6 separate regions of the Homo sapiens genome follow, and regions 1, 2, 3, 4 and 5 are each linked to region 6. Evidence: fine-mapped expression QTL. A gene starts in region 6. Each other region holds a variant in brackets. All regions are shown on one strand. Distances are from middle to middle. Region 1 overlaps ESYT2 (extended synaptotagmin 2). Region 2 overlaps ESYT2 (extended synaptotagmin 2). Region 3 has its middle 35 kb from the start of MIR5707. Region 4 overlaps VIPR2 (vasoactive intestinal peptide receptor 2). Region 5 overlaps ESYT2 (extended synaptotagmin 2). Region 6 holds the start of NCAPG2 (non-SMC condensin II complex subunit G2).

Region 1 (5,062 bases), 31 kb before region 6:
TTATGTTTAAGTTCATGGGTAATTTGACTTCTTTTTGTCTAAATGAATAGAAATTATTTTATCGTGTACAGTGGACCAATGAATCACAACGTTCTCCAGTCTCAGGCAAGCTGGTGACTTTCTGCTCTTTTCCCACAGCGGGACGACCCTGGGACAGTCTCCACTGGGGCAGATCCAGCTGACCATCCGGCACAGCTCGCAGAGAAACAAGCTTATCGTGGTCGTGCATGCCTGCAGGTGGGGGCTGGGGTCCCACGCGCCCGCTGCTGTGCTGCTGAGTGTGGATGCTGGATAGGATGATGTAGACACCGCCTTTAGGATTTCCAAACATCCATTTATGTTTCATTTAGAAAGGACAAAGCAATTAAACCTCTAGAGACGGTGCTCGTAAAGGGTGTCACCACTGCGTATGTCACATGACAACGTTTTGGTCACCGAAGTACAACGGTCCCCTAAGATCATACTGTATTTTTACTGTACCTTTTATGTGTTTAAATACACAAATATGGCTTGGCATGGTGGCTCACGCCTGTAATCCCAGCACTTTGGGAGGCTGAGGTGGGCAGATCACCTGAGGTCTGGAGTTCGAGACCAGCCTGACCAAAATGGAGAAACCCTGTCTCTACTAAAAATACAAACTAGCCACGTGTGGTGGTGCATGCCTGTAATCCCAGCTACTAGGGAGGCTGATGCAGGAGAATCACTTGAACCCAGGAGGCAGAGGTTGCTGTGAGCCAAGATCGTGCCATTGCACTCCAGCCTGGGCAACAAGAGCGAAACTTTGTCTCAAAAAGAAAAAAAAATACACAAATATGTCACAATTGCCTACAGTATTCAGCACAGTAGCATACTGTACAAATGTGTAGCCTAGAGCAGGAAGAGTGTGTGTGTGTGTGTGTGTGTGTGTGTGTGTGTCTGTGTGTGTGTGTGTATTTTTTTTTTTTTTTGGAGACAGAGTTTTACTTTGTCCCCCAGGCTGGAGTGCAGTGGCACAATCTCATCTTACTGCAACTTCCGCTTCTTGGGTTCAAGCAATTCTCCTGCCTCAGCCACCCGAGTAGGTGGGATTACAGGCGTGCACTACCTCGTCCGACTAACTTGTATTTTTAGTAGACACGGGGTTTCACCATGTTGGCCAGGCCTCCTGAGTAGCTGGGACTATAGGTGGAAGCCACCAGGCCTGGCTAATTTTTAATTTTTTTATGGAGACGCTGGTCTCTAATTCCTGGCCTCCCAAAGCACTGGGATTATAGACTTGAGCCACCATGACTGGCCTAATCAGGAAGAATTTATTTTAACTTGTTTGTTATATTAATAAGTATAAAGTCAGGTGACTGTTGCATTAATTGCATTTGTTAACAATGATACTGTGGGCTTACGAACTATTTTCCTTTTATGCAATTTTCTCTGTCCTATTAGTGGTTTAAAATATGATATAAAAATTTGGTGCTTATAAATAGCTGTTGGAAACATAGGAAAATAAAATTAGCACCATTTAGAAAGATGATAAAAATGTAGAGTTCAGTACATCACTCTTGAGAAGTTCATATATTCTTGCCACTTAGATAATGATCGTGGGGGATACTGTTGTAGAGGAGTCTAGCAAAACAATCCCTCCTAGACTTTGTGGTCAGTCAGCAAGCGAAGAATGTGGGGGCCTGTGCAGCTGGGCACCTGACCGCGTTTGCTGCAAAGGAGCAGCCCCCTTCTGGAGGGGTAGGCACTGTGGGGTGGGGGCCTGGCTTTCTTGGCTGTGAGAGAGAAAATGGCAGAAGCATTATGGAAAGACAACCGTCACTCTGTTACAAGCAGAGACCAAGGACTTGGAACGTCCTCCAAACTCTGGGCTTGAGAAATGAAGGCCGAAGTCGCTGCTGAGAAAGCCACTAAGAAAGGAGTTTGGGAGATGCCACCAGGCAGCCGTCGGGGGAGGCAAAAGCGCCTCACGCATTCTGTTCCTTGTTGCTTCTCGGTTTGTAGATAAACATGAAATCAAAGCTTGATAAAGCATATCTGAATGTGCTGCTCATTCTCTTTTTCTCGGTCCTAATACCTCGTCTTATCTGGTTTGTGTTGTAAGAAACCTCATTGCCTTCTCTGAAGACGGCTCTGACCCCTATGTCCGCATGTATTTATTACCAGACAAGAGGCGGTCAGGAAGGAGGAAAACACACGTGTCAAAGAAAACATTAAATCCAGTGTTTGATCAAAGGTACGGTATTTTATCCAGCTGAGGATAGACTGCCCGGTTGAAGTGACGGATTAAGAAGGCCCTAAATGGTGCCTTTGAGTGGCCAAAGCACATAAATCAGCTGTTGAGAAGTT[C/T]AATCAGAAACCAACTTTTAGCAAACATACTTCTCAAAACAAATAAGCATTTTGACCTTCATGTAGAAGCTCTAAATACAGTAAATTCAAGTTACAACCCTGTGGACATGTAGACTAGTGATTAAATAAAGATCAGGTTACTGATGGCCCTGAAGAACTCATTTTTGGGGGTTATATCTGTTGACACTTAACTATGTTATCAATTAAAACTGAGAATTTAAGGATACATATATTTTTAATTTTATTTTTAAATAACAGTAAGCCCCAAACATCTTACCGTATGACATATTGGAAAAACAACTGTATTTCCAAAAATAAAAAACATAATGAAAAGAATGGTATTATTGTTCAGCATTTTTGCTCATCTCTTTAGTGGTCTGGCTCAAGAGGGGCTGGAGCCTGCTTCTGTGGTCAGGGTGATTTGGTGACCTCCTAGGAGGGTCTCAGAGACACCCCCAGGGGTCATTGGCCCCCACTTTTAAAGAGCTGCTAATCTGTACCATTTTGGTATCTTAGGTGATTGTCCCCTAGTGCTTCAAAACCCACCCTTGTTTTGGGAAATGATAATAATACAGTTGTATGGTGTCGCTATCTGCTAATTCAGTTTACGTTTCATCTTTAAACATCCTCCTCATTCATTGTACTTTCATACAAGTAGCTTTATGTAAAACACCCATCAGAAACTGGCAGGCGTGCATCAGCCCGATGAGGTTGTGCAGGGTGCTCCTACCCATCCGAGGCATTTAAGCGTCTGGAGACTCCACTTGCCCCCCAGCACGGTGGCCTGGGGCAGGCACCCGCAGCCCGGAGGAGAGACGCCCTGCAGGCACTTTAGTGCAGCGTCTGGCTGAGCATCGGGAGTGCTTTGGAGGCCTTCTCCCTCCTGCGAAGCTGCAAGCACATACTTTTTTTTATTGGAGATGGTGGGAATAGGGCCTGAAGACTAAACCAGACTGAGTGGAAAGCCTGAGTGAGTGGGCTGCTCTGGAATTGCTGTTTTGTCAACATTATCCCACATTTTAATCCCCTGGAAGAGTCAGACATGTTGAGAGACGCTCCTCACCCACCCGTGAGTGAGCCAGGGACCTTGGGACCCAGACATCTATGGGATGCCAGAGCCTTCTTTTATGTGTGGGAAATGAAAAAAATGTTGGTTTTTGAGTCTTCCTGAAATGCCAGATTAAAACATTAGGTAGAAGAACTCAGTTTTATAATAAAAAACAAACATGACATTTGGAATGATCTCATGAGCAGAAATGCCATTTTTAGTTATAAGAAAATACAGCAGAATGATGGATAAAGTAAGGCTCTCGTTTCCTATTTCAGCTTTGATTTCAGTGTTTCGTTACCAGAAGTGCAGAGGAGAACGCTCGACGTTGCCGTGAAGAACAGTGGCGGCTTCCTGTCCAAAGACAAAGGGCTCCTTGGCAAAGTAAGTGCCAAACGAATCCTCAACCAGTTCCTGCAGTTTGTAAAATTGAACATTTACCTGCAGTGCAGTGTTTAGACCATGTCTGTGTAAGTGGAAGGGGCGAACTTACGAGGTCGATGCTTGTTTATAAATCATGGGCTATAAAGACAGTCAAAACATCTGTGCTTTCTGAAGATATTTTAAGTTAAGTCTTCACATTTTTGTTCAAGTATCACATTGAAGGAAAATAATCTCTTACAATTCCATCTCCTCAACTGATGGCTCTGCTCTTTTTCTAAAATTCTTTGGCTTTATTTATGTGAATTTCTTCTACTCTTTGTCCGTATTTCACATTTCACTTTGGCATGTGAGTGTATGTTATTTAGGAATGAGAGTAGGTTCAGTTGGGGAGGAAGAGATTTGAGTCACGGGCATCATTTCGTCAGCTGTGCTGCCATGGAGGGCACATGGGCCAACCCTTCTGTGAGTCATCTCCGCTGATATTCCGTCATAGCTGAATTTTAAGACTGCTGGTTGCATGAAGGATTTCTTAGATGTATTCAGCGATGTAGCTTACAGGTGCTCAGGGGGGTAGAAAAGATTGAAAAAGTAAGAGCCTTCAGAAAAGGGAGAGTCCATATTCCTAGATGAAGACAGAAGATTAGAGAGATGAGAAGAAGTGGTAAAAGATCTAAAAGACATTGTCTTAGCCTACTTTATGTATTTGTTTATTTATTTAGAGACAGGGTCTGTAGAAGCACAGGCTGAAGTCCAGTGGCGCGATCATGGCTCACTGCAGCTTCAAATGCCTGGGCTCCAGCAATTGCTGTCTCAGCCTCCCGAGTTGCTGGGACCAAGGTGCGTGTCAGCACGCCCAGATAAATTTGTTTTACTTTTAATAGAGACAAGGTTTCACTATCTTGCCCAGGCTGGTCTCAAACTCTTGGGCTTAAGAGATCCTCCCATCTTGGCCTCCCAAAGTGCTGGGATTACAGACGGGAGCCAGTGCCCCCAGCCCAGCCTACTTTAACTGCTTTTTTAACAACCCACAGGTATTGGTTGCTCTGGCATCTGAAGAACTTGCCAAAGGCTGGACCCAGTGGTGAGTGTCCCTGCTGCAGACAGAGAACCCCAGTGTGTAGCTAAAAACGCTTTCCCCGCCCAGTGGGTAGTGTCCCCCACAGACAGTGGTGGAACCCGACACGTATCTGATAGGCTTTTCCTACTTGGTCCTGTATCCGTCACCACCTTCCTGTCACTGTCTTTCTCAGGTATGACCTCACGGAAGATGGGACGAGGCCTCAGGCGATGACATAGCCGCAGCAG
Region 2 (5,134 bases), 110 kb before region 6:
ATCCATTTGTTAATATCTCTCTAGACTCTCCCCCATTCTTTTAGTAAAAATAATACATGTTCACTTTTTTAAAATCCAAGAAAAAATATATTTAAAAGATCATCCATAATACCAAACCATCCATAATGGTAGTTGCTAGTAAAGTATAAATTGAATGGGGTTTAATGGATTACGGCAGTGTCTAGATGAAAGTATCAGTACAAAGTAAGAAGCACATCCCACGTGCACTTGTGTATTGCAGCAGCAGTGTCCTTTCGGATAACAGCTTCAGTTTTGTGCTTGGTGATTGCGTGCTGGAATTAGTGATAACCACACCAACAGCAGATGTGGAAATACTAATATGATGGTTTTCATTATGCTTTCTTTATTACTTGTAAAATTGTCATTGAAACTGAGTTTCTTTTTTTTAATTTGTTCAGTTACACGGTGAAGTCCCCCTTTATCTTTCTATATTTAATGAACATGTAGTTGTATTTTTCTTCATTTCTTATGTTATGGCTAGACAGGTTTCAAAAACATTTTTTTCTGATTTAAAGAAGAAAGTATGCTCATTGAAGAATAAGCTTTGGAGGAGAATAAAGAAGAAAAACGTTACCTGCAATTCTACTAACTAGTGATAACATTACATTGGCAACATTTCCGTGGATTTTGTTAATGTTTTAATGATATGTTTGGATATATGGGTGTGTATAGTATCCTCCTTTCTTAAATGCTATATTATGGATAGTATGTTATTCTTCAGAAATATGACTTTGACTATTGCAGTATCATCTGTCTTATGAAGCTACCAGACTTTATTTAAATGATGTCTGATAGACATTTGAAAAACTAGATTGTGAGATATGATATAATGAGAAGAGTTAAAAATAGAATTTGAGATATTTAATTTTCTGCTCTTTTTAAGTTATGAAAACGTATTTACTTGAGCTATTTATTAGATCTGTGTCTAGGATATATGAATTATTTTTGAACTCATTAGACATGATAATTTTGTAAGCAGAAGTCTGGCCTTGGAAGGCAGTGTTTGTTTTTGCATGGTATGTTGTTAAAAGACAGAGGATTTATCCCTATCTCTTTTTGTCTGAATAACCTTTGGAAGAAAGCATTCCCTCCATAATGAGTCACAACTTCAGATTGCTTTTCTTCCCCTGTGCTGTGTTGGTATATTAAAGTTTGCTAACAGTTACAAGTATTTTTAACTGCCATGGTTTCGTGTAGCACAATTGAGTAATGGCTACTTTGAGGTTCCCATGATGATTTGTTGAATTGGTGTGTCCTTGTCTGGACATGACCAGTCATGTGGCCAGGGCCCGTGCGAGTGGGGCTGCCCTTCTGTGGGGTGTGCTGAGGTGTGGCCACCGGCCTCTGGTTAGCTTTGAGGCTCCCACCGTCTCGCAGAGCCCACAGCTCAGGCTCTGGCTCTGGTGGGTGTGGGTTGCGCCCTGAGACCCACCCCTTCCTAACTCCCTGCCCTTGGGTGAGTCAGGTCCAACTCTTAGAACCTTGTTTCCTCTTTGGTTTGATGGGGGTTGAGCCTGACTCTGTGCTGTGGTTGTGAGGCTGGAATGCGGAGAGGCCAGTGAACACACTGGACATGGGCGGGCAGGGAGGCATGTCCTCGGGTCAGCCGTCTGAGTCACAGGCCCAGAGATGCCCAGCTGTGACCAGTGCTCCGCTTGCAGGCAAGTCCTGGTGTGGCCTTTGCCACCTCCCTCCCCCACCTCTGCTGAAATGGAACAGATGAGCCCTGGGGTTTTTCTTTGTTTCTGTTCCACCGTGGTTTGTTTACGCTGTTGCTAAGAATTTATCTACCATAATGCTTTGTTGTTATTAACACTTGCAAGTATGTGTGCCGTAAAATTTCACTTTCTCTTCCTCTCTGTATATCCCTAAAATAATATCCAAGGAGCCTACAGTGGCACTCCTCTTCCTTGCCTTGATTTGCTCTGTATCTTCCTTAAAACAAATATTGTTCCAAGGACATGGCTAATCTTTCTTGACTCCACTTCCAGGAGTCATCCTGATGCCATAGATAATGATAGTTAATTTTACATTTTGTACATATAACATTTAATTATTCTAATATTCATTAACTTCCTTTTGTGAATAAGTGCTGGTTAGTGACTAAAAAGTGGGGATTTGAAAGTGCACATCCTATTTCGGGGTCAGTTGTAATAGTTTAATTTTAACGTGTATTATATGTGGAGTTGTTTCCTGTCTGAGGGATTGATATGTTTTAAGTTTCCCAGAGTAAGGTAGATCTGTAGAAAATAAATCCAGTGATTTGGGAGAACATTATCTAACTTCATGCCATAAATATTATACTGGAGTACCTATTATATGCTAGTTTTTGATTATGCTGCTCACATTTTGAGAACCAGTATCAAATTGCTAAAATTATTAATCTGAATGATACTTTCACCTTCCATTTTCTTATGAAACTTTGTTATATATTTGTTAAAGCATTTAGTTTAATCTGTAAACCAAAAGTATCTGAGACAAGTCTCAATTAATTTAGTATTTTATTTTGCCAGGTTTAAAGGATGCTGGTGACATAGTCTCAAGACATTTGCCCAAGGGGGTTGACCTGTAAGTTTTAGGGATACATAAGACACCAATCAATACATGTAAGCTGTACATTGGTTCAGAAAGGTTGGACACCTGGAAGTGGGTACATTGGTTCAGAAAGGTGGGACACCTGGAAGCAGGTACATTGGTTCAGAAAGGTGGGACAGCTGGAAGCGGGTACATTCGTTCAGCAAGGTGGGACACCTGGAAGCAGGTTGGTGTGGGGAG[C/T]GCTCCAGATCATAGCTGGACTCAAAGATTTTTCTGATTGGCAATTGGTTAAGTTACTGTCTAGAGACCTGGAATCAATATAAAGGAATGTCTGGATTACCTTGTGGAGACCAAGGTTTTATTGTACAGATGAAGCCTCCAGGTAGCAGGCTTCAGAGAGAATAGATGGTTAATGTTTCCTGTCAGACTTAAAGAGTCTGTCAGTTCTTCTGTCAGTTCTGTCAGTCTTAAGTCTGTGTCATGGTAATGAGGTGTGTCCGATGCCCCACCCCCTCATCGTGGCCTGAAGTAGTTTTACAGGTTAACTTTGGAATGCCTCTGGCAGAGAGGAGGAGCTGTTCAGATAGTTGGGAGCTTAGAATTTTCTTTTTGGTTTATACTTTGTACCCAATTTGTAAAATGTTATATAAAGCTGGTGTTGATATTTATACACAATTAGAAGTGAATTGCCTACTGAGATCATTAATTTATTTCATTTGTGCTACAAATCTTTAAATGGCTAGTAAGTGCGTACCTAAAATTTGTTAACACCGTCTACATTAATATCTGAGTGCTAGACTTTTGAAACCGAAACTCCAAATGTAATCCAATACAAAGTAACAATACTCTTCCTACTTATTTTTTCACACATATAAAGATCTTGGAATTTATCCAGTAACTAGTAGAAAGAATTGATTTTACTTAATCACAAATGGTGCTGTGTGTGAAGCAAAGTTTTAAAAGAAATGCTCCGTAGATGTCAACGTGAGTACTGGAGCAGGAGGGAAAGGATGACATGGTTGGTGCATTAGGGCGCCTGTGACAAAGTGCCATCAACTTGGTGGCTTCAGACAACACTCTTATCTTTTAAGGGTTCTGGAGGCCAGCAGTTGGAAATCAGTTCCTCTGGGCTAAAACTGAGGGGTGGGCAGGGTGTGCACTCTGGAGGCTCCTGGGGAGAAGCTTTTCCTGCTTTTCTTGCTTCTCAGCCACATTCCATGGCTGCAGGCCCTTCTCCCTTCAGAGCTGGCAGCTGCTTTCATCCTCATGGGGCCATTCTGCTTTCTGTTTTGTCAAATCTCTGTTCCTCCCTGTTTTCTTTCTTTTCGTTAGACAAGGATTGAGGCTGCAGTGAGCTGTTTGCACCTAGGCTGGAGTGTGGTTGTGTGATCATAGCTCACTGCAGTCTCGACCTCCTGGACTCAAGCAACCCTTCCACTTCAGCCTCTCGAGTATCTGGGACTACAGGCCTGTACCACCACACCCAGCTAATTAGCTAATTTTAAACATTTTTTGTAGAGATGGAGTCTCACTGTGTTGCCCAGGCTGGACTTCCTCCGTTTTTAAGGATACTGGAGATGGCATTTAGGGCCTTATGGATAGTCCTCCACCAGCGAAGATCCTCCATTTTACCACATCTGCAGCGTTCTTTTTGCCATATAAAGCGACACTCACAAATTCCAGGGATTAGGACGTGACCATCTTTTGAGGGCTGTTACTCAGCTTCCCACACTACCCTGTTTCTTGGAGTATTCAGGAGCCAGGAAGGCTTAGTTCCAGCACTTTCCCCGTGCCGTAACATCTCAGAAATCAGATTTATTTTACAAGGGTGTATCACTGTTAATGGACTGTGCTCTTAGTGGCACATAAAGTGATGGTGCAGCTTATAATTGATCACATCTTGGATTCAATACTAAGGTTTTTTTCCATTTTTGGCTGTAGTCCTGGTGTCTGAGGTTGGATGTGGTCTTTCAGAGGTGGGATGAGGAGGAGCTGTGCAGTGGGAAGAAGGGTTAGGAACTGTGGGAACTGAGATGACCACAGGAAGCAGCACCATAAGTTACACAAGTGGAAGAGTTGGGCTTGATCCCTAGACACAGGGCAGCATCCAGATATCCACTAGAGGGATGTGTCCCAATTTAAAAGGGGGGTTTAGCAAGATACATTTGGCAGGGATATCCAGAGGGACTGGGGACACATATCTAAGCATGAGGGGGAAGGAGTGTGCCTGAATGTCAGGGGAATAGCTTTGGGGAGGAAGGAAGATAGATGAGTGAGCCAGGAATGTGAACAACCACCCCAGGGTGTAGAAATGATGGCTGGAACAATAGGAGCAGTAGTTTGAGGCTGGGGCTGCGGTGGGAGATTACTTCAGTCTTTAATGTTGGTGTAAGAAACCCAAGGAAGTTCCAAGAGGACTCAGCCCAACAGCAGCCAGCACCTCCCTGGAGAGACAGGAGACAGGCAAGCGAGAGGCGGAAGACCGTGTGGATAGCTTCACAAGGGAGCTGCCTCTCTGCACTCGGAGGAGTGTAACAGAAAACCCGTGAGAAAACAAACGGTGAATGTGCTTAGCACT
Region 3 (5,134 bases), 79 kb after region 6:
TGTTTTTGTTGTATTATTGCATTGTTTGTCTTGTTGCGTTTTAAGCCTTCTTTAGATGTTCTGGATACAAGTCTTTTATTAGGGTTGGGTATTACAGTATGTGGCTCCTATTTTTATTTTATTTTATTTTATATTTTATTTTTGAGACCGAGTCTCGCTCTGTCACCCAGGCTGGAGTGCAATGGTGCGATCTTGGCTCACTGCAACCTCTGCCTCCTGGGTTCATGCAGTCCTCCTGTCTCAGCCTCCCGAATAGCTGGGATTACAGGTGCATGTCACCATGCCTGGCTAATTTTGTGTGTGTGTGTATTTTTAGTAGAGATGGGGTTTCACCATGTTGGCCAGGCTAGTCTCAAACTCCTGACCTCTGTGCTGGGATTACAGGTGTGAGCCATCGCACCTGGCCCTATTTTAATTTTTTAAAATGGTGTCTTTCAAATAGGAAATTTTAATTTTGAAGAAGTCCTGTTTATCAATTATACTCTTGTAGTTTGTGCTTTTTGTGTTCTATATAAAAAGACATGTAAAAAACCATGTTTATTTGTTGTCCTGTATGAAATAACATGTTTTATTTTGGCTTGCATAGTTAACTGATGAGAATCTTTTTTTTTTTTTTTTTTGAGACAGAGTTTCGCTCTGTCACCCAGGCTGGAGTGCAGTGGCGCAATCTCGACTCACTGCAAGCTCCGCCTCCCGGGTTCACGCCATTCTCCTGCCTCAGCCTCCCGTGTAGCTGGGACTACAGGCGCGCGCCACCATGCCTGGCTAATTTTTGTATTTTTAGTAGAGACGGGGTTTCACCGTGTTAGCCAGGATGGTCTCGATCTCCTGACCTCGTGATCCGCCCGTCTCGGCCTCCCAAAGTGCTGGGATTACAGGCGTGAGCCACTGCGCCCGGCCGAGAATCTTGCTGTTATTTCTACATTGGTGTCTGTGGCTGCTTTTATTATCTCCTTATCGAAACCTAAAAGCTCTGCTCTTGTGTTTAGGTCTGTGATCCATTTTGAATTAATGTTTATGTATGGTATGAGGTAAGGATTTATTTATTTCTTTATGCCATATGGATATCTAGTAGTCCCTGCACCATTAGAAGGTAATATTTTTATCAAGGAACTCCATGACACATCTCTGGACCTGCCCTTCATCTAGACCAGCAGGGCTCAGCTGGGCATGAGTTTGCCCCTCTTTCCGTCAGTGGCACAGGTGTCTTGGTGGGCTGGGTTGCCACAAAATGCCTCAGGTAGGAGGCACGGGACAGCCCTTGCAACAAAGAGTCATTCCAGCCCAGTGGTCAATGGTGTGATGTTGAGAAGCTCTGCTGTGTAAGTGTATGTTTGAGCTGTTATGATTAGGTGTGTAATCCATTTTAAGTTAATCTTGGATGTGGAGTCCAAGTTCAGTTTGTTGTTTTTGGTTTTTCCCCATATGATTATCCCGTTGTTCCTGCACCCTTTCCTCCTCCATGAAATCACCTTGCATCTTCGTCAAGATGCAGTTGGCTATACCTGTGTGGGCTCTTTCTGGAGTCTTTTCTGTGCACTGAGCTATGGCCATCCTTACGCCAATTCCCAGGGTCCTTTTTATTTGAGCCGTACCTGTGTCTTAAAATTGTGAATTGCAAGTCCCCAATTGGCTTTCTGTTTTTTGATGTGGTTTTGGCTTTTCTAGCTCCTTTGCCTTTTCATATACATTGTAGAATCAATTTGTCAATTTCTACAGACGAAAACATGCAGTACAATTCTGATTGTGATTACACTAAATTTACAGATCAAGCTGGGGATTAACTCGCAAAAAGAGTCCGGCCACTTATGGAAAGAAGGCAAAATAATAAGTTATGATGAGAAAGAGTGATATTCCTTTATTATTTGTGCAGGCAAGGGGAAGAGCAGTTCCACTCTTCAGTTTGTGGAGGGAACGCAGGGTTTTACAGAAAGGGTTTGGAATGCGGAAGAGGCAAGGGGGACTAAGAGGTGCCAGGTGGCGTGACTTGCTTCAGTGGCCCTTCTTGAATTATTGTCCCATTTGGTGAAGGGGCCGGCACCATTGTGCATCCTACCAGGTTATAAATTAATCACAGTCAATCTTGTAGTCACTCTTCAGCCAGGAGAGGGTTCTGGCCTTGAAATAATCTTTTGTTGGAAAGAGAATTCCGGAGTTGCCTAGTCCCTTTTAGGACCCGACCCCTGAAGCTTCTAAGCAAATAAATGGCCAGATAAGAGAGCATGGTGTGTGCTTAACTAGTATCTGGGTAAATACATGTGCATAAAGCATGGGAGCATACAGTGGGAAAAGAAAGAAGAGTGGAGGGCCCGGGTTCGGTGGCTCACGACTGTAATCCCAGCACTTCGGGAGGCTGAGGTGGGTGGATTGCCTGAGGTCAGGAGTTCCAGACCAGCCTGGCCAACATGGTGAAACCCCATCTCTACTAAAAATACAAAAAATTAGCCAGGCGTGGTGGCACACGCCTGTAATCCCAGCTACTTGGGAGTCTGAGGCAGGAGAATCACTGGAACCCAGGGGGTGGTGGTTGCAGTGAGCGGAGATTGCACCACTGTACTCCAGCCTGGGCGACAGAGCGAGACTGTTTCCAAAAATAAAAATGAAAGGGAGTGGAGGTTCGCAGCACATTCCAAGGCTGTATTTCGAGATGAAAGGTAACACATATGCAGTTTGTCTCAAAGTTTTATCTTGAGACTGGGAAGGGGAAGAGGAAAAGGAAAAGAAAAAACAGTTTGAAACACAGTTTGAGGCTAGGCTGCTAGGCTGCTAAGCTCTTCGGGCAGAGGGAGAATTGACACTCAACAGTGTTGAGTC[G/A]TCTGATCCATGACCATTGTCTAGTTTTTCAGACATTTAATTTCTCCCAATATTTTGTCATTTTCATGATATAGGTCTTCCATATGTTTTATTAAATTTATCCCTACGTATTTTGTGTTTTATAGAGCTGTTGTAAATGGTAGTATTTTTAAATTTTCAACTTCTAATTGTTTATACTGGAATAGAGGAAGGCAGTTTCTTTTTGTATGTTGACTTTGTATTCTACTTTTCTAAGCTCATTGATGACTTGTGGTAGTTTATTTATAGGCTCTGTCATATTTTCTACTCAGACGATCAGGTTATCTAAAAATAAATGCCATTTACATCTTCCTTTCCAGTCTGGATGCTTTTATTGCTTTTCCTTTTTGTGCCGGTGAGAACCTCCAGTAAAATGTAGCCTGGAAGTGGTGTGAGCAGGCACTCTCGCCTTGTTCTGGTCTCCACAGCACAGCATTCAGTCTTCCACAGCTCAATAAACTGTAGGTTGTTTATAGATGCATTTTATCAGGATGAGGAAGTGCCTTTCTATTCCTAGTTTTCTGAGAATTTTTTTCCGTGAGTAGGTGTTAAAATTTTGTCAAATCCTTTTTATGCATTTTTTTTTTTTTTTGAGATGGAGTCTCACACTGTCGTCTGGGCTGGATTGCAGTGGGTGATCTTGGCTCACTGCAACCTCCGCCTTCTGGGTTCAAGCGATTCTCTTGCCTCAACCTCTCGAGTAGCTGGGATTACAGCTGCCTGCCACCATGCCTGGCTAATTTTTTTGTATTTTTAGTAGAGATGGGGTTTCACTATTTTGGCCAGGCTGGTCTCGAACTCCTGACCTCATGATCTGCCTGCCTCGGCCTCCCAAGGTGCTGGGGTTACCAGCATGATCCACCGCGCCTGGCCCACATCTATTAACTAACATATCTACCTTCAAAAAATACTGTATCCCTTCATGAGTTGCACACAAACTTAGCAGCTTACCTCCACCTTCTGTTCGCTGTGCTATCATTGTCATACATTTTACTTCTACATATGTTATTCCCAAAATTCATTGTCATTATTTTTGTTTTAAACTGTTAATTAACTTTTTAAAAGATTTAAACATGAGAGAAAATTGTCTTTTAAGTTTATCCACGTATTCACTATTTCTGGCAATGTTCTTTCCTTTGTGCAGTTTCAGATTTCCATATGGTGTCATTTTCTTTCTTTTAAAGAGCTTTCTTTAATATCTCTTTAGCATATATCTGCTAGTTATGAGTTTTCTCGGCTTTTGATTATCTGGAAGAGTATTTTGCCTTCATTTTTGAAGGTTTAAAAAATTTTAAAGACAGTGTCTTGCTCTGTCACCCAGGCTCAATCATGGCTCACTGCAACCTTGACCTCCTGGGCTCAAGTAGTCCTCCTGCCTCAGCCTCCCAAGCAGCTAGAGCTACTGGCATGTACCACCACATCTGGCTTTTTTTTTTTTTTTTTTTTTTGTAAAGACAGGGATTTGGGCCGGGCGTGGTGGCTCACGCCTGTAATCCCAGCTCTTCAGGAGGCCAAGGCAGGTGGATTACCTGAGGTCAGGAGTTCAAGAACAGCCTGGTCAACATGTTGAAACCTCGTCTTTACTAAAATACAAAAATTAGCCAGGTGTGGTGGCGGGTGCCTGTAATCCCAGCTACCCGGGAGGCTGAGGCAGGAGAATCACTTGAACCCAGGAGGCGGAGGTTGCAGTGAGCCAAGATCGCTCCGTTGCACTCCAGCCTGAGTGACAAGAGCGAAACTTTGTCTCAAAAAAAAAAAAAAAAGACGGGTTTGCCATCTTGCCTAGGTTGGTTTCTGAGGTATTTTTGCTAGAAAGAGAATCCTGCGTTGATATTTTTCTCCCAGGAGTTTAAGCATGTTTTACTGTGCCTTATTTGGTTACTGATGAGCATCCTACTGCCAGTCCCACCTTCGTGTCTCTGTCTGCCTTCATGATCTCTTTATCACTTTTTTGTTTGTTTGTTTTGTTTTGAGACGGAGTTTTGCTCTGTCATCCCAGGCTGGAGTGCAGTGGCGTGATCTTGGCTCACTGCAACCTCTGCCTCCCGGGTTCAAGTGATTCTCCTGCCTCATCCTCCTGAGTAGCTGGGATTACAGGCATGCACCACCAAGCCCAGCTAATTTTTGTATTTTTAGTAGAGTCGGGGTTTCACCATGTTGTCCAGGCTGGTCTTGAACTCCTGACCTCAAGTGATCCACCTGCCTCGGTCTCCCAAAGTGCTGGGATTATAGGTGTGAGCTAACACACTCGGCCTATCACTGGTTTTTAGCAATTTGATTATGATGTATTTGGGTGTGGTTC
Region 4 (5,134 bases), 430 kb before region 6:
CGTCCACACGTGGGTAGACCCCGCTTTTCCTTCCAGACACGTGGAAGCTGGCATACTCTTCACACATGTGCTCGGCATCTTGCTTTTCTTTTCTGTTTTGTATTTCAGTGTAACAATGTATTTGGCAACTGTTTTGCATTTGTTCTTATATTCTCTTTAAGAGCTGCTATAGTATTCTAATGTGTTTCTTTAGTCTCTCCCAGGTCCATGGACTTTTAGGTAGCCGACAGTATTTTGCTACTACAAACAATGTTCTAGTGACCGTTTTGTTGGTGGGAATAAAATATTTCACCAGCATTTGAGGGTTAACTTCAAGCCACTCATATAAAATGGGAATCACCATCTCCTATGACCAAATGACACTATTTTAGCCCACTTTCTCATTCCTGTGTCGGTTGTGTCATGTGGGATATGGTTAATCACAACCCATTTTACACCTAACCCCTTCTTGCTTGTTTCTCTTTGTCAGAGGAAACCAGACAGTGTCCACAAATGGGTTCTTGCTCACAGCGTCATGTGGGCACTGACCCTCCTCGGAGGGTCCAAGGCCCTGTGTGGCTGCAGCATTCCACCTCGCTCTGTGGTCTCGGCTCAGCTGCCCTGCGATGCTGCCCTCTGCTGCGGGAGCTGGAGCTCTGGTGGGAGCTCGCTGTTCGTGGTCCTCAGCAGATATTCAAGGCAGACCTGTTCTAAGAAACTAAATGAATAATCACTGTGTTATGCTCCAGAAGGTCTGAACCGAGCAGTTTTGGCATCCACGGCAGAGAGCAGAGAAGTAGGTTCCTCTGATGTCAATATTGATGGTGTAGACGTCAGTTGTATCTTAAAAGGTGCCTATATCTTTCCTTTTCATTTTCTTTCTGATATAAGTAGGTCCTTGTTCTAGTCCAAATAACTTTTTGGACTGATGAGATAAACAGCCTGGTCACTTTTTTCTTTTGGATCTTTTTGACTAGATTTCTTCCATTTTCTAAACTCTTTAAGGTCATTTCCTCGTCTTGGATATTTAAATAATTAATAACTGTTTATTGGTTGGGACAGTCTTAAAGTAATGTCTTTATGCCTGGTGCAATGGGCTCATGCCTGTAACCCCAGCACTTTGGGAGATCGAGGCAGGAGGGTAACTTGAAGGCAGGAGTTCAAGACAAGCCTGATTAACATAGCAAGACACCAAAAAAACTTTTTAACTTAACCTGGTGTGGTGACACACACCTATAGTCCCAGCTTCTCAGGAGGCTGAGGCAGGAGGATTGCTTGAGCCCAGTTCAAGGCTGCAGTGAGCCATGATGGCACCACTGCACTCCAGCCTGGACAACACAGACAACAGAGCAAGAAGCTGTCTCTATTTTTTTTTAAAGTAATGTCTTTATATTTACTTTTTATAGGAAACAAATCTCACTGAATTAATTTTTACCCTGAATAAAATGCTTAAGAATCATAAAGGGAATTATGGTTGAGAAGTCAGTTTCTGGCAGGTGAAGGAGTGGGCCACTCAGAAGTGCACTAATGGCTTCTCCTGTCTGGGAAGAACGGAGCTGTTGCCTGGGTGACCACAGTGGGTCACAGGAAGCCATTCAGGGTGGGCGGCCGGCCCCTTGAGGTGAGCTGCTGCTGATGGGGTCAGAGTCAGCTTCCTCCCCACCCCTCCTGCTGAGGTCAGGGCTCAGTCTGGTGCTGGTGACCCCAGACACAGCAAGCTCCCACCAGTCGATGGCCTCTCCTGGTGCATACCTCTCTGCCTTCTCCACTCCCCTCCCTTGATCTCTGTCTCCTCCATCCTTGGGCTCTCACACCTGCCTCCTCCTCCCCAGGTATGCCTGGGTGTCCTCAGAACCTGGCTGCTTCCTGTCCTGCTGGTGGGGGTTGGTGACGAGTGGCGGCTGCTTCTCCACATGGCCACAGCAGTAACAATTCCTGCTGGCCTCATTTTTTATGATTTTATATTTATATACCCATTTCACATTCTTTACTTATGAGCCATGGTTTTTACAGCATGTTGTCTGTCGGGGCCTCCTCCTTTTCCTGGGCTCAGCCTGTTCTTCCACAAGGACTGTGTTGACGCGGGGGTTCTTGAGAGGCTCAGAGACCTGGGTCAGTGGAAACGAAACCCACAGCCAGCATGCAGCTCACCACACACACAGCTCCTCAGTGTGTGGCCAGTGACCTCTCAGCTTCTTCCGGGGCAGCAGTGGTTGTCTTGGGTACATGGCCACTGTGGATGGACACTAATGTGCGCTTTCATGCAACCTGTCAGATTCTTGGTGGCTTCGACTCTCACATGTTTTTGATTTGCTATGGTTTGAATATTTATCCCCTTCAATACTTAGGTTAAAACAATCCTCAATGTAGTAGTATTGAGAGACGGGCCTTGAAGAGGTGATTGGGTCATGAAAGCTCTGCCCTCGTAAGTGGGTTAATCCGTTAATAGATTAGTGGGTTTTCAAGGGATAGGTTTTATAAGAAGAAGAGAGACCTGGGCCAACACGCTCAGCCCCCTCACTACACGATGGCCTGTGCCACCTGGGAACCCTGAAAAGTCCCCGCCAGCA[A/G]GAAAGCCATTGTGGCCACTCGACCCTGGATTTATCCAGCCTCATAACTGTGAGAAATAAATGCCTTTCCTTTATAATTTACCCAGTTTCCGGTATGTTGTTATAAGCAACAGAGGCAAACTTAGACACATGAGCAGACTGCAGCTCTTCCTGAAGGGGACTTGGGACTCGAACCTCTTTGGTCACAAAGCTTTGTAGAGTTTTCTGGGTCAGCACCCAGTCCTGTGATTCCCTGAAGGCTTCATGGCCAGGACCTGTGTGTTTGAGGGTTGCCTCGTGTCGTGGGATGAGTGGAAATTAAACCGTCCGGCTGACATTTGCTGATGCGTTGGCTGATCCTCTCATTTATTTATTTTTTCTGAGATGGAGTTTCACTCTGTCGCCCAGGCTGGAGTGCAATAGCATGATCTCAACTCACTGCAACCTCCGCCTCCTGGGTTCAAGCAGTTCTCTTGCCTCAGCCTCCTGAGTAGCTGGGATTACAGGCGCCTGTCACCACGCCCAGCTAATTTTTGTATTTTTAGTAGAGATGGGGTTTCACCATGTTGGCCAGGCTGGTCTCGAACTCCTGACCTCAGGTGATCCACCCGTCTTGGCCTCCCAAAGTGCTGGGATTACAGGCGTGAGCCACTGTGCCCGGCCTCCTCCCATTTATTAACATTTTTCAGCAGGTTTTTATGGAACAGATACCAGATTGTAATAAAGAACTTTCCTTTTTAAATATTATTTTTATTTTATTTATTTTTTGAAACGGAGCCTCACGCACTCTGTCACCCAGATTGGAGTGCAGGGGTGCGATCTGGGCTCACTGCAACCTTTGCCTCCTGGGTTGAAGCAATTCTCCTGCCTCAGCCTCCCGAGTAGCTGGGATTACTGGCATGTGCCACCATGCCCAACTAATTTTTTGGATTTTTGGTAGAGACAGGGTTTCACTATGTTGGCCAGGCTGGTCTTGAACTCCTCAAGTGATCCGCCTGCCTTGGCCTCCCACAGTGCTGAGATTACAGGCGCGAGCCCCTGTAGCCGGCCCTTTTTTAATGTTAAAGACTCACTTTTCTTAACTAATCAAAGACTAGAGACAGCATGAAGCTTAATAAGTTATCCTGATAAAACACAAAATCATTGTTTTCTAGGCCAATTACTTAAAATGTTAAAAAAAAAAAAAAAAAAAAAAAAAACTTTTGTAATTAAGAGAAGACCAATATTCAAGAAAATATTGTCCTATTGGCCAGGCGCGGTGACTCATTCCTGTAATCCCAGCACTTTGGGAGGCTGAGGCAGGCAGATCATGAGGTCAGGAGATCAAGACCATCCTGGCTAACACGGTGAGACCCCGTCTCTACTAAATATACAAAAAATTAGCCGGGCGTGGTGGCGGGCGCCTCTAGTCCCAGCTACTCAGGAGGCTGAGGCGGGAGAATGGCGTGAACCCAGGAGGCAGAGCTTGCAGTGAGCCGAGATGGCCCCACTGTACTCCAGCCTGGGTGACAGAGCAAGACTCCGTCTCAAAAAAAAAAAAGAAAGAAAATATTGCACTATTAATAGAAAACAAACTCACTTTGTGTCAGTACTTGAAGCTTTTTTTAACAAAAACTTATAAATAAAATCATTCTAATGTTAGTAGTTTGACCACACATAAAATTTCTTTTGTCAGACTTTCTACAACTGTGTATACCCACTCAGTTTTTTTCTTACTCATTTTCTTCTTTTTTATTCTGGAACAATCAGTCATCTTGCTTTAAGTTAAAAGTACTCTCTTTTTCCTTAAACACAGACCTCATATACTTTTCCTTATTAAAAACACATCATACTTTCTCTGTTTTTTTCATATACAGTTGTTTGCTTTCATCTTTATTTCCAGTGATTTTAATTACACATGTTAATTCAAATTCTTAATCCTTAGTGACACTGATATGCACTGTGAATTAGGAAGTACATGATATCATAGTTATTAAATGGCATGTACTTTCTCAGCACAGGACACACTTACTGGCAGACCTAGGTAGCTCCAGTTCCTCTAGAATAAGCCAAAAATACTTGAGCTTAAACTTCTTTTTAGGAATTAGTGTTTTAGTAGTTTATCTTATTTGGGCATGATCTAGATATGTAGTAAATATCATTTAATTTAACTTAGTATAATTTCAGAGTTTCAAGTTTTCAAAAATATTTTGGAAACTGTTTTTAAACAGACGGATAATATCAAACTACCTGTCATCTCAGGTTATTTTTCTTGTTGACAAATTTTTTAACAGGAATAATGAGCTTATTTGACTAGCTCAGCTAGGTAGAATGTCCATTTCTACTACATCATCGACATTCTTATTTATTAAAGATTACTCAAGTTAGATGAACTTGAAAACCATTGGGTTAGTTCCTTTTTTCTCACAAAATATTTAATTTTTACAAGCACCTAATTTTCTTTAGGCAAATAAAATAGATCTCGTTTATATGTTATCTCTAATAATAACATCAGAAGGTAGGGTAATATGAGATATAAATAACATACATACATATAGACGTACATAACCAAACAGACAGAAGCAGAGATTCCTGGCCTCTGTTCTCAAATTGTAGCCCTGTGCCAG
Region 5 (5,134 bases), 42 kb before region 6:
CAGGGAGATCCCTTGAGGTCAGGAGTTCGAGACCAGCCTGGCCAATACGGTGAAACCTCATCTCTACTAAAAATACAAAACTTAGTCGGGCATGGTGCCGGGTGCGGTGCCGGGTGCCTGTAATCCCAGCTACTCGGGAGGCTGAGGCAGGAGAATCGCTTGAACCCGGGAGGCAGAGGTTGCAGTGAGCCGAGATTGCACTACTGCACTTCAGCCTGGGTGACAGAGCAAGACTCTGTCTCAAAAAACAAAACAAAAATAACATTAGAAAGTAATAGATGAATATGTTTTTGCTTGATTTTATGAGTAGACACATGGGAACAATTCCTAAGTTTGTCTTGAGCACTCTATAAATAGTTTAAAAGAAAACCAACAGTGCTTAAAATTCAACCAATACAGTTAGAATTACGACTTGAAAAGAGGGTATGGCTATTACATATTGCTGTAATATGTTCTACTTTCCTTACAGGAGAAAAAAAATTAGCTGGGCATGGTGGCACGTGCCTGTAATCCCAGCTACTTGGGAGGCTGCAGCAGGGGAATTGCTTGAACCCGGAAGGTGGAGGTTGCAGTGAGCTGAGATTGCGCCACTGCACTCCAGCCTGGCGACAGAGCAAGACTCTGTCCCCCCTACCAAAAAAAAATAAAAAATAAAAAAAAAAAGAAAGAAATTGCCCGAAGTTACAGGTCATCACTCACTGAATTGTGAACAGTTTAAGAGACGTGCCCAAGTGCTCACCCTCCTCAGTTCGGAGGAGCTATTACGTTGGTGCAAAAGTCATTACAGAACCGAGGCCAGGCCACGCACACGAAGCCTTTATCTGTGGGCGCACAGGTTGGGGCCTCATGACAAACTCTAAAGGCTTTAGACCGTCTCGTTATCTTTTCAACACATCCACCATCAATACATAATAGTGCATACCTGCAAATACATGTCTTGGAATTTAATTAAGGTCAACCTAAGCTTCTAGTTTTTTGTTTTATTTATTTTCTTTTTATTTTTCATTCTAAGCTTCTAAACACATAAAATGAGTAGCCCTTTTCCACAGAAAATATCAGAGCTAATAATTTGGATATTTCTTCTAGATTCGATACAAAACCAATGAACCTGTGTGGGAGGAAAACTTCACTTTCTTCATTCACAATCCCAAGCGCCAGGACCTTGAAGTTGAGGTATTTTATTTGCATTTTTTAACCAATTTATTGACAAATAATTGACTTTTTAAAGTATACAATTTGCTGAGTTGTGACCCGTGTATACACCTGGGGATCCATCGCCAGAATCAGGACAATTGGTAGATCTCTCTGTAACCCGGGCCTCCCCTAGCCCCAGGCAAACACAGACCTGCCTTTGGTCACTGTAGATTACTGTTCACATTTTCCAGGATTTTATACAAATAGAATTATGCGGTATGTCCTCTAGTTGTCTATATTCTCTGGTGATAATTATTCTGAGGTTTACCTGTGTTGTTGCAGATACCCACAGTTTGTCTTTTTTTATTGTTGAGTAGTAGTTATGGATATACCACAATTTGCTCATCCATTTACCTGTGAGTAAGACATTGATAAAAGATTGGGTTCTTTCCGGTTTAGACCTATTACATATAAATCTGCTGTGAATATCACATACAAGACTGTGTGTACATATGCCTTCATTCTGTTGGGTAAAATGCCCAGGAGCAGGTTGCCAGGTTCATGTTTAGCTTCTTAATAAACTGCCAAATTGTTTTCCAAAGAGATTGTGCCGTGTCACATTCCCACCGAAGTGCATGTGAGTCGAGCGGGCCCCACATCTCGCCAGTGCTGTGGTGTTAGTGGGTAGATAGGAGTATTACCGGGTGGTTTCAGCGTCATTACTAATGACGTTGAGCACCTTTTTATGCTTTTTTACGGTCTTTGTATCTTCTATGGTGAAATGTCTATTCAGTTTTTTTGCCTGTCTTTTTTATTTGGTTATTTGTCTTCTTAATACTGAGTTTGTAAGACGTTTGGGGTTTTTTTTTTAATGTTTCATTCTTT[C/T]TGAGATGAAGTCTCACTCTGTCATGGAGGCTGGAGTGCAGTGGTGCGATCTCAGTCACTGCAGCCTCCACCTCCTGGGTTCAAGTGATTCTCTTGCCTCAGCCTCCTGAGAGCTGGGATTACAGGTGCGCGCCACCACACCTGGCTGATTTCTTGTATTTTTAGTGGAGACGGGGTTTCACCATGTTGGCCAGGCTTGGCCTTGAACTCCTGACCTCAGCTGATCCGCCCACTGTGGCCTCCCAACGTGCTGGGATTACAGGCGTGAGCCAACGCACCCCGCCTCTTTGTTTTTGAGAACAGAGTTTCACTCTGTTACCCAGGCTGGAGTGCAGTGGTGTAATCACAGATCACTGCAGCCTCCAACTCCTGGGTTCAAGTGATTCTCTTGCCTCAGCCTCCGGAGTAGCTGGGACTACAGGCAGACACCACCATGCCTGGCTAATTTTTTTATTTTTTGTAGAGAATTATTTTATTTTTTGTAGGGTCTCACAGTGTTGCCCAGACTGGTCGCAGACTCCTGGGCTCGAGCAGCGATGTTCCCACTTCTGCTTCCCCAAGTGCTGGGATTGCAGTTGTGAGCCACGGTGCCCAGCCTCTTTTTCTTAATATGGCTGTGTAGTTGTTCAGCATTTGTGCAGTTGTTCAGTCTTTGTTGAAAAGATTATTATTTGCCCTAATTTATTAGCTTAGCAACTTTCCAGAAATTCAGTTGCCCATATGTATAGGTCTGTTTCTGGAATTCCTTCTGTTCCATTGTTCTATATGTCTGTCTTTATGCCAGTATCACACTGTCTTTATTATTGGTGCTTTATTAATCTTTTTTTTTTTTTTTCTTGAGGCAGGGTCTCACTTTGTCACTCAGGCTGGAGTGCAGTGGTGCAGTCATGGCTCACTGCAGCCTTGACCTCTTAGGCTCAAGCAATCCTCCCGCCTCAGCCTCCCAAGTGGCTGGGACTAGAGGTGCACACCACCACACCCAGCTAATTTTTGTGTTTTGGGTATGTGTGTATGTGTGCCTCAGCCTCCCAAGTGGCTGGGACTACATGTGCATGCCACCATACCCAGCTAATTTTTGTGTGTTGGAGGGGCGTGTGTGTGTGTGTGTGTGTGTGTGTCTATTTATGTATGTAAAGATGCGGTTTCACCACATTGCCCAGGCTGGTCTCGAACTCCTGAGCTCAAGCCATCTATCCACCTTGGCCTCTCAAAGTGCTGGGATTACAGACGTGAGCCATCATGCCTGGCCTGTCTTCTCTCTTCTTCTTCCTAATAAGTCTTACAAGATGTTTATTGATTTTATTTTCTTAACCAATTTTTTGTTTAATTGTCATTATTGCTTTTCTTTTACTATTTCATTGATTTCTACTATGATCATTATTATTTCAGTCCCACTTACTTTGGGTCTTTGCTTCTCTTTTTCTAGTTTCTTAAAGAAGAAGCTTGAGACATTTCTGTTTTTATAATGTAGGCATTTACTCCAATAAATTTCACTTTAAATTCTGTAGCTACATCTCACAAATTTTGACTTGTCGTTGATGTCTCCTTTTGATTATTATTATTTCCTTAATTTCCCTTTCAGTTTTTTCCTTTGACCTGTGTATGGGTTATTTTGGTCTGTTATTTAGTTTCCATATGTTTGGGGATTTTTTTTTAATCTTTCTATTATTGATTCCAATTTCATTCCATAGTGGTCAGAGTACATACTTTGTATGACATGAGCCCTTTTATGTTTGAGACCGGCTTTATGGCCCAGAGCACTGCCTGTCCTGGGACACACTCCACGTGCACCTGTAGGCTGTGTGCCTTTCTGGTGTTGGCGAGTGTCTCATGAATGTCAGTAGGTCAGGGTGGTTGGTGGCATTGCCATTGCTCAGGCCCTCTGGGGCCTTACTAGTTCTCAGACTACTTATATCAGGTATGAAGAGCATGGCGTTTAAATCTCTGAATTTATGTTTTTTTCCTCAGCCTCTGTTTTTGCTACTTGTATCTTGAACCTCTCTTGATAGGTGTGTGTGAACAGCCAGGCCTAGGAGACCTGGTCATGCCGCTTGCCCGACCCTGTCTCATTAGATAGGTGAGTGTGAACAGCCGGGCCTAGGAGACCTGGTCATGCCGCTTGCCTGACCCTGTCTCATTAGATAGGTGAGTGTGAACAGCCGGGCCTAGGAGACCTGGTCATGCCGCTTGCCTGACCCTGTCTCATTATTCTGTGTTGGTTGTTTTATTAGGTTGGTGCAAAAGTAATTGGAGTTTTTGCCATTGAAACTGCAATTACTTTTGCCCCAATCTGATACTTTTTTACATTCTGTTTTATACAAAAGGATTTGTGTTTTGTCTAGCTGGTTTTTCCTTCATAAAGTGCACTTCTGTATTCTCAAAATAATCTATGCTTACTGGACCTTGGATTTTAAAAATAATTTTTAAAGTTCCACAAACATTGTCATAGTTATTTCATTTAAAACTGCTTTTGTGATTATAGTTTAGTTTGAAAAGAAATATGCAATCAACCTTTTAGGTTTTCCTGAGTAGTTATGTGTTAATTTCTCTGACCATTTTTGTATAGCCTGAGAAACCTTCAGAGTTCTTACTCTATTTGATTAAATTATTTTATATTACAGCCATCTAACAGGAATAATTCCTGTTGCAGAGATAATGCAGAAGGTTATTATACAGGAAAAAGAGGCTGGGCATGGTGGCTCACACCTGTAATCTCAGTACTTTGGGAGGCTGAGATGAGAGGATCACTTGAGGCCAAGAGTTTGAGAACAGCCTGGGCAACATAGTGAGATCCACCTCTGTTTTTTAAAAAATTTTTAAATGCCTTGCTGTAAATTTTCTTTAATGTGGATTTTGAATGGAGAAGGCTTAAAAGGTACTTAGAAATGTATTGTCTCCATAAATGTCATGAATGGAAACTGTATACATCGTTATGAGTGTGTATTGCCACCATTTTCCCAGGGGTTAAAAGACAGGTAGACTATTGCCTATTAACCCAGGGTTCTCCGAACCGATTGGTCATTATTGTCATTACTGCTTTTCTCATTTGTCATTATTACATCATTTCTTTCTGTGCTCATTGTAATCTATAATGACGAAATAGCAGATCTTTTGC
Region 6 (5,134 bases):
GGATAGGAGCTACCCACTTCGAGTCTCCTCTCCACTGAGAGCTATTTGGTCAGCTGTTCTCTGCCTTGCTCACCCTCCAGATGTCTGCCAAACCTCATTCTTCCTGGACATGGGACAAGAACTTGGAACCTGCTGAATGGTGAGAGCAAAACGAGCTGTAATACTTTCCTGGCCAGCTTGCCAAGTTGCAGGTGGGAGCCAAAGTGGCTGTAACGGGTTCCTGGCCGGGTCGCTGAGCTGCGGGTGGTGACACGCTCCCAGACTGAGGGAGTGAAGAGTGGTGACCCTTGTAGAGGCCCAGGCCTTGGGATTCCCCAAGCCAGAGCTATAATGCTATAGCCCTCCCACCCTCTGCTGGCGCCCAGTGGCCACCCCATGCAGTGGGAAGCAGCGGTGGGGCCGGGACAGCCAAGGAGCCGTGGACCGGTGTGGGGCGGCAGGACCAAAAGACCTGTAACACAAATGAGGTGAAACATGCCGCCCCGGAAACACGACCCCCTGCTAGCCACGCTGTGGGTGATGAGAAGGACAGAAGAGCTGTGGCCCTTCTGGGAGCCCAGACCTCGGGGCTCCCCGAGCCAGGGCTGTGACACAGTGTAACCCCCCTTTGGGGCTCTGTGGCTCCTGGCATCTGTGAGCTTTCGGGTGCCACCATGTTCCCCTTGTCCAGATGCTGATGCCTGCAGTGGAAGCCACTTGTGGTACCTCTGGTCCAGCCACAGCCTTGCATGGAGCCGGCAGCTGTGCAGGCACCTAGAGCTGCCTGCTCCACCACAGCAGCTGCATGGCTGGGTGTGCGCAGTGGTTGGACCCCATGCTCGCTTGCTCACATACCCCTTGCCGCTCTGCACCTGGCTCACCCTTGGCAGGCGTGGGATCTGGGTTGGTAGTGCAAGCCGAGTGCAACCTGCTGGGCTGAGTGGGCTCGAGCAAAACTCTAGCAGAGGCACCGCTGGCCACGGAGGTTTCTAGCTGGTGAAGCGATACCCAAAGGATCCTATGACATTAGTGGCTGCATGGGCAGGTGCATTGGGGGTGCACTGGGCGCTCCTGCTGCCCTGCTTCCACGTGCCTCTGAGCACTGCACTACATAGACATTTAGGCCTCATAACAACCCCCTAGAGGAGGCTGAGCTCTGCATTATACAGACATTTAGGCCTCATAACAACCCCCTAGAGGAGGCTCAGTACTTAAGTAGGTCCCATTTGATAGATGAGGAAACTGAGGCTCAGTCGTCCATGGCTTGTCAAAGGTCACCAGCTAGTGAGCACAGAACCAGGTTAGCCCAGGTGGTACAGCTTCAGAGCTCACATGCGTAACTTGTTACATTATTCCTACTCAGGAAGTGGAAACCCCAGGAACAGATGGCTGATTGGAGGAGGGACCAGCATAAGGAAAGGGGCAGGATTCAGGGGTGGGAGGGGAAGTCGATATCTGTTTTGGATGCATGTCAGCACCAGCGTGGGAGTAGGCAGTGAGCTGTTGAAAATTCTGGAGTTCAGAAATAACCGTGTCTTGCAAATCCAGATGCAGAGGTCACTGCTTGAAGGTGGCAGTTTGCACCTTGGATATGAAGGAAATTGCTAAGAAGAAAGCAGTGAGAAGATGAGGGCACCAAAATTCAAGAAATGGCAGGGAAGGATCTGTGTATGGAGGGAGGAGGAGGTCAGAGGTGGCTGGAGCCCCAGGATGAAATAGGCAATGTTAGATATCGGCCACCTGTTGACAAGGGTCCCAGACTCAGCATCCTCTGAGTGGGTCTTCTCCCTCCCCTCTGCAGCCTGCCTTGCTTCACTGTTGCAAGCTTCCTAGTAAACCAGTCTTCTCCCTGCTATAATTTTATATTGCTTGTTGAAACGATATTCCAACAAGTAACATAAATATTTTTGATATACTAGGCTAAATAAAACATATTTAAAAATTAATGTCACCTATTTATCTTCATTTTTCTAATGTGGTCACTAGAAATTTACAAGTGCACTTGTGGCTCCCATGATGTTCCTATTGGTTGGTGCTGTGCTCCCACAGTGCAACGACTTCAATCTCGCCAAGACCTCTGGCTTGAGTTAAGCCAGGAAAACAGATACCACTCTAGACATCTCAAGCATGAAAGAATATAGCTCCAGGGAAGGCCAAGTCCTCACGAAGGGATGCAGAGCTCGGTGGTAAAGAGCACCGTTTTCTAAGAATTTGCTTTCAACAAAAATTGGGAACGCCCAATCAAGTTATTCGCTGACACAAATTAAAAGAGATTGATACATCAGTATGTGATTTTGGCATTTAAGTCCAAAGAATTGAATGACATTGCTACTCCTCCTTCACACGGGTGCCTCCGAGGGTCCCCGCTAAGGCCTCTCCCTCTCCACCCTATGGGCAGCTGACCTGCCGGGGGCCTCACCTGCTGGAGGAGCAACTGCAGGAGAAGCACCTGTTAGGGGCCGCACCTGGCCGGAGGGGCTCCTGCGGGGGAAGCACCTGCCCAGGGTGCACCTACCGTGTGCAGGCTGCGGACCACCCGGACAGGTGCCCCCTCGGCAGGGAGGGCGGTCACGGGGGCCGGCCAGGTCGGGGTGGGGTCCTCCCGGGGATCCAGACACGGCCCTGTGGCCTCTCCCCGCCCCAAGCCTTTCCTTTCTCTCCCCCTCTCTCTCTTCCTCTCCTTCCTCCTTCCCACAACACCGCCCGCTCGCAGCGCCCCGCCCTCTCCTGGACCGCGCACTCCCTCCGCGGAGGCCCCAGGACGCGCACGAGCGCGCAGTGGACGTCGGCGCGCGGACCGGGCATGGGTTCCCCAGCTGTGGCGCCCCGCGTGCGCGTTCCGTAGTGCCCGGTAGGGCACTGGGCTTAGCTGCTCGAGGCCGCGCCCTAAGAGGCGGGGCATAGACAGGAAGAAGACTGGCGGGCATGTGGGCGGGGCATGATCTGGAGGCGGGGCGGGCCGGGCGTGTGGGCGAGGCCCGAGGCTCGCGGCGCCCCAGCTCTCGCGAGAGCGGCGCCTGATGACGACCGGGAGGGCGGGGCCCGTCTGGGGCGCCGGCGGGTGCGTTTGAATCTGGTCCGAGCGCGGGAAACGGCGGGTCCCCGAGCCCAGGTAAGAGCTGCGGTGCCGAGCCGGGATTGGGTTCAGAGCAGGGGCTGGGAAGTAGCAGGGATCGGGCGGGAAGCCCCTCCTCGGCTGGTCGGGGTCCCAGCCTCCCCTCCCCTAAGGAGGCGGCCGACCTGCGTGCGGGCAGTGCTGCCTCTGACGGAACTGGACGGAACTGGCGACCCCGGGCCATCCCCCCTACCCAGCTCAGCGACGCCCGTCCTTCTTGTCCGTGTCGGAGGAAAATCCCAGCCCCGGGCGCGGGCACTGCCCTCAGAGAGCGACCCCCCAGCCCTGAGCATGGGCACCGTCCTCAGAGAGTGTCCCCTCAGTCCTGGGCATGGGCACTGCCCTCAGAGAGCGACCTCCTCTGTCCTGGGCATGGGAACTGCCCTCAGAGAGTGTCCCCTCAGTCCTGGGCATGGGCACTACCCTCAGAGAGCGACCCCCTCAGTCCTGAGCATGGGCACTGCCCTCAGAGAGCGTCCCCTCAGTCCTGGGCATGGGCACTACCCTCAGAGAGCGACCCCCTCAGTCCTGAGCATGGGCACTGCCCTCAGAGAGCGACCCCCTCAGTCCTGGGCATGGGCACTGCCCTCAGAGAGCGTCCCCTCAGTCCTGGGCATGGGCACTACCCTCAGAGAGCGACCCCCTCAGTCCTGAGCATGGGCACTGCCCTCAGAGAGCGTCCCCTCAGTCCTGGGCATGGGCACTGCCCTCAGAGAGCGACCCCCTCTGTCCTGGGCATGGGAACTGCCCTCAGAGAGAGTCCCCTCAGTCCTGGGTGTCGGTACTGCCCTTAGAGAGAGTCCCCCTGAGCCCTGGGTGTAGGCACTGCCCTCAGAGAGTATCTCCCCAGCTGTGGACGTGGGCATTGTCCTCAGAGACATCAGTCTCCTGAACTCTTGTTGCTGGTTTGGTGCCTCTTGTTGTGTCCATGAGGAAGGAGTTTGGGGACGGAGTGGGAAGTCACAGGTGGTGAGAAGGTAACAGGGATTTCTTCTTTTTAATGCTCATCTTGATTTAGTACCAGACCTCCTGTGCGAAGAGTAACCTGCTCTTCGGACTGATAACTGGATGGTGAGATGACTCCTTACCTTGAAAGTAGCATTCTGGCTGCAGGGCTGAGGTCTTATGCACATATGGTACAAGAAACATGGAATATTGCCACTTTGGGAGATAGATTGAAAAATTAACCATTAAAAAATTACAGTCACTAATATAAGAGGGAAAATGGGAAATATAGGAATAAGTTTGGTAGTCTAGAGGAAGTGTATTACTGTAAGTTGGACTAACATGCCAAAGAGGTACACTTGGAAATAGAGCAAACAAGAAAAGTGACCAGAACTATGAAAAAGTGGAGAGTGTTCACAGACTTGCCGGGCGAAGATGTATGATTCCATGTGTTTGCTGCACCTTATTGGATTATTTTTCTAAAATCATGAATTTGTCCTAGCCACTATTCATTATGCTTGTTACTGGCCACTCTCCCTTCCCTCCCCATTTTCTTTGTCAGTGAAAAATGTGCCAGTCATGCTTGATTTAAAGAGGGAGACACGTTGTCGTTAGGCAATTTCATCATTGCATGAACATCACAGAGTGGACTTGCCTACACCTAGAGGTGTAGCCTACACACATAGGCTGTATGGTGTAGCCTACTGCTCCTAGAATGTTACTGTACTGAATACTGTAGGCAACTGTAATACAATGGCAAGTATTTGCATCGCTAAACATATCTAAGCATAGAAAAAGCACAGTAAAAATATGGCATTATAATCTTATGGGACCACGGTCATACATGTGGTCTGTTGTTGACTGAAATGTTATGTGGTCCATGACCGTAGTTCATAGTTCAGCCATTTGAGTTGAGGAATGAGATGACCAGACTTCACTGTTAACTTATTTCGGGAGTCATTAAACTGAGGTTATTTTTGCTTTGTTCAATTTGGACATTAAAATCTAGTATTATATGTTTAAGATGACTCTCTGTCCCCATAATTATTGGCAATAATTTTCCATATTGCTCTATTTATAATGGTGCAGGTGGTT

Evidence for each region. PIP is the estimated chance that this variant, and not a neighbour inherited with it, causes the effect.
Region 1: its variant is fine-mapped to the expression of NCAPG2 in whole blood (INTERVAL, PIP 0.98).
Region 2: its variant is fine-mapped to the expression of NCAPG2 in whole blood (GTEx, PIP 0.97). The same link has a PIP of 0.9 or more in aorta.
Region 3: its variant is fine-mapped to the expression of NCAPG2 in stomach (GTEx, PIP above 0.99).
Region 4: its variant is fine-mapped to the expression of NCAPG2 in sigmoid colon (GTEx, PIP 0.98).
Region 5: its variant is fine-mapped to the expression of NCAPG2 in whole blood (TOPMed, PIP 0.98).

What each region holds. Positions count from the first base shown.
Region 1 is chr7:158,734,198-158,739,259 of GRCh38, reverse strand. It overlaps ESYT2 (extended synaptotagmin 2), which reads left to right. Exons shown (of 23, transcript NM_001367773.1): 19 at 139-237; 20 at 2,081-2,212; 21 at 3,652-3,757; 22 at 4,789-4,838; 23 at 5,008-5,062. The coding sequence ends at 5,053. Among named protein-coding and RNA genes, the nearest start is that of NCAPG2, 32 kb to the right of the region's middle. RefSeq lists an enhancer at 4,214-5,062. The variant C/T (reference allele first, on the strand shown) is at 2,326.
Region 2 is chr7:158,815,114-158,820,247 of GRCh38, reverse strand. The region is part of intron 1 of ESYT2 (extended synaptotagmin 2); the gene reads left to right. Among named protein-coding and RNA genes, the nearest start is that of ESYT2, 12 kb to the left of the region's middle. RefSeq lists an enhancer at 1,673-1,832 and a silencer at 4,876-5,134. The variant C/T (reference allele first, on the strand shown) is at 2,797.
Region 3 is chr7:158,623,621-158,628,754 of GRCh38, reverse strand. No RefSeq gene overlaps it. Among named protein-coding and RNA genes, the nearest start is that of MIR5707, 35 kb to the right of the region's middle. The variant G/A (reference allele first, on the strand shown) is at 2,815.
Region 4 is chr7:159,133,598-159,138,731 of GRCh38, reverse strand. The region is part of intron 2 of VIPR2 (vasoactive intestinal peptide receptor 2); the gene reads left to right. Among named protein-coding and RNA genes, the nearest start is that of VIPR2, 8.7 kb to the left of the region's middle. The variant A/G (reference allele first, on the strand shown) is at 2,550.
Region 5 is chr7:158,744,233-158,749,366 of GRCh38, reverse strand. It overlaps ESYT2 (extended synaptotagmin 2), which reads left to right. Exons shown (of 23, transcript NM_001367773.1): 16 at 1,087-1,173. Among named protein-coding and RNA genes, the nearest start is that of NCAPG2, 42 kb to the right of the region's middle. The variant C/T (reference allele first, on the strand shown) is at 2,020.
Region 6 is chr7:158,702,681-158,707,814 of GRCh38, reverse strand. NCAPG2 (non-SMC condensin II complex subunit G2) reads left to right here and starts at 3,011. Exons shown (of 28, transcript NM_017760.7): 1 at 3,011-3,091. RefSeq lists silencers at 2,355-2,634, 2,755-2,844, 2,995-3,094 and an enhancer at 3,672-4,250.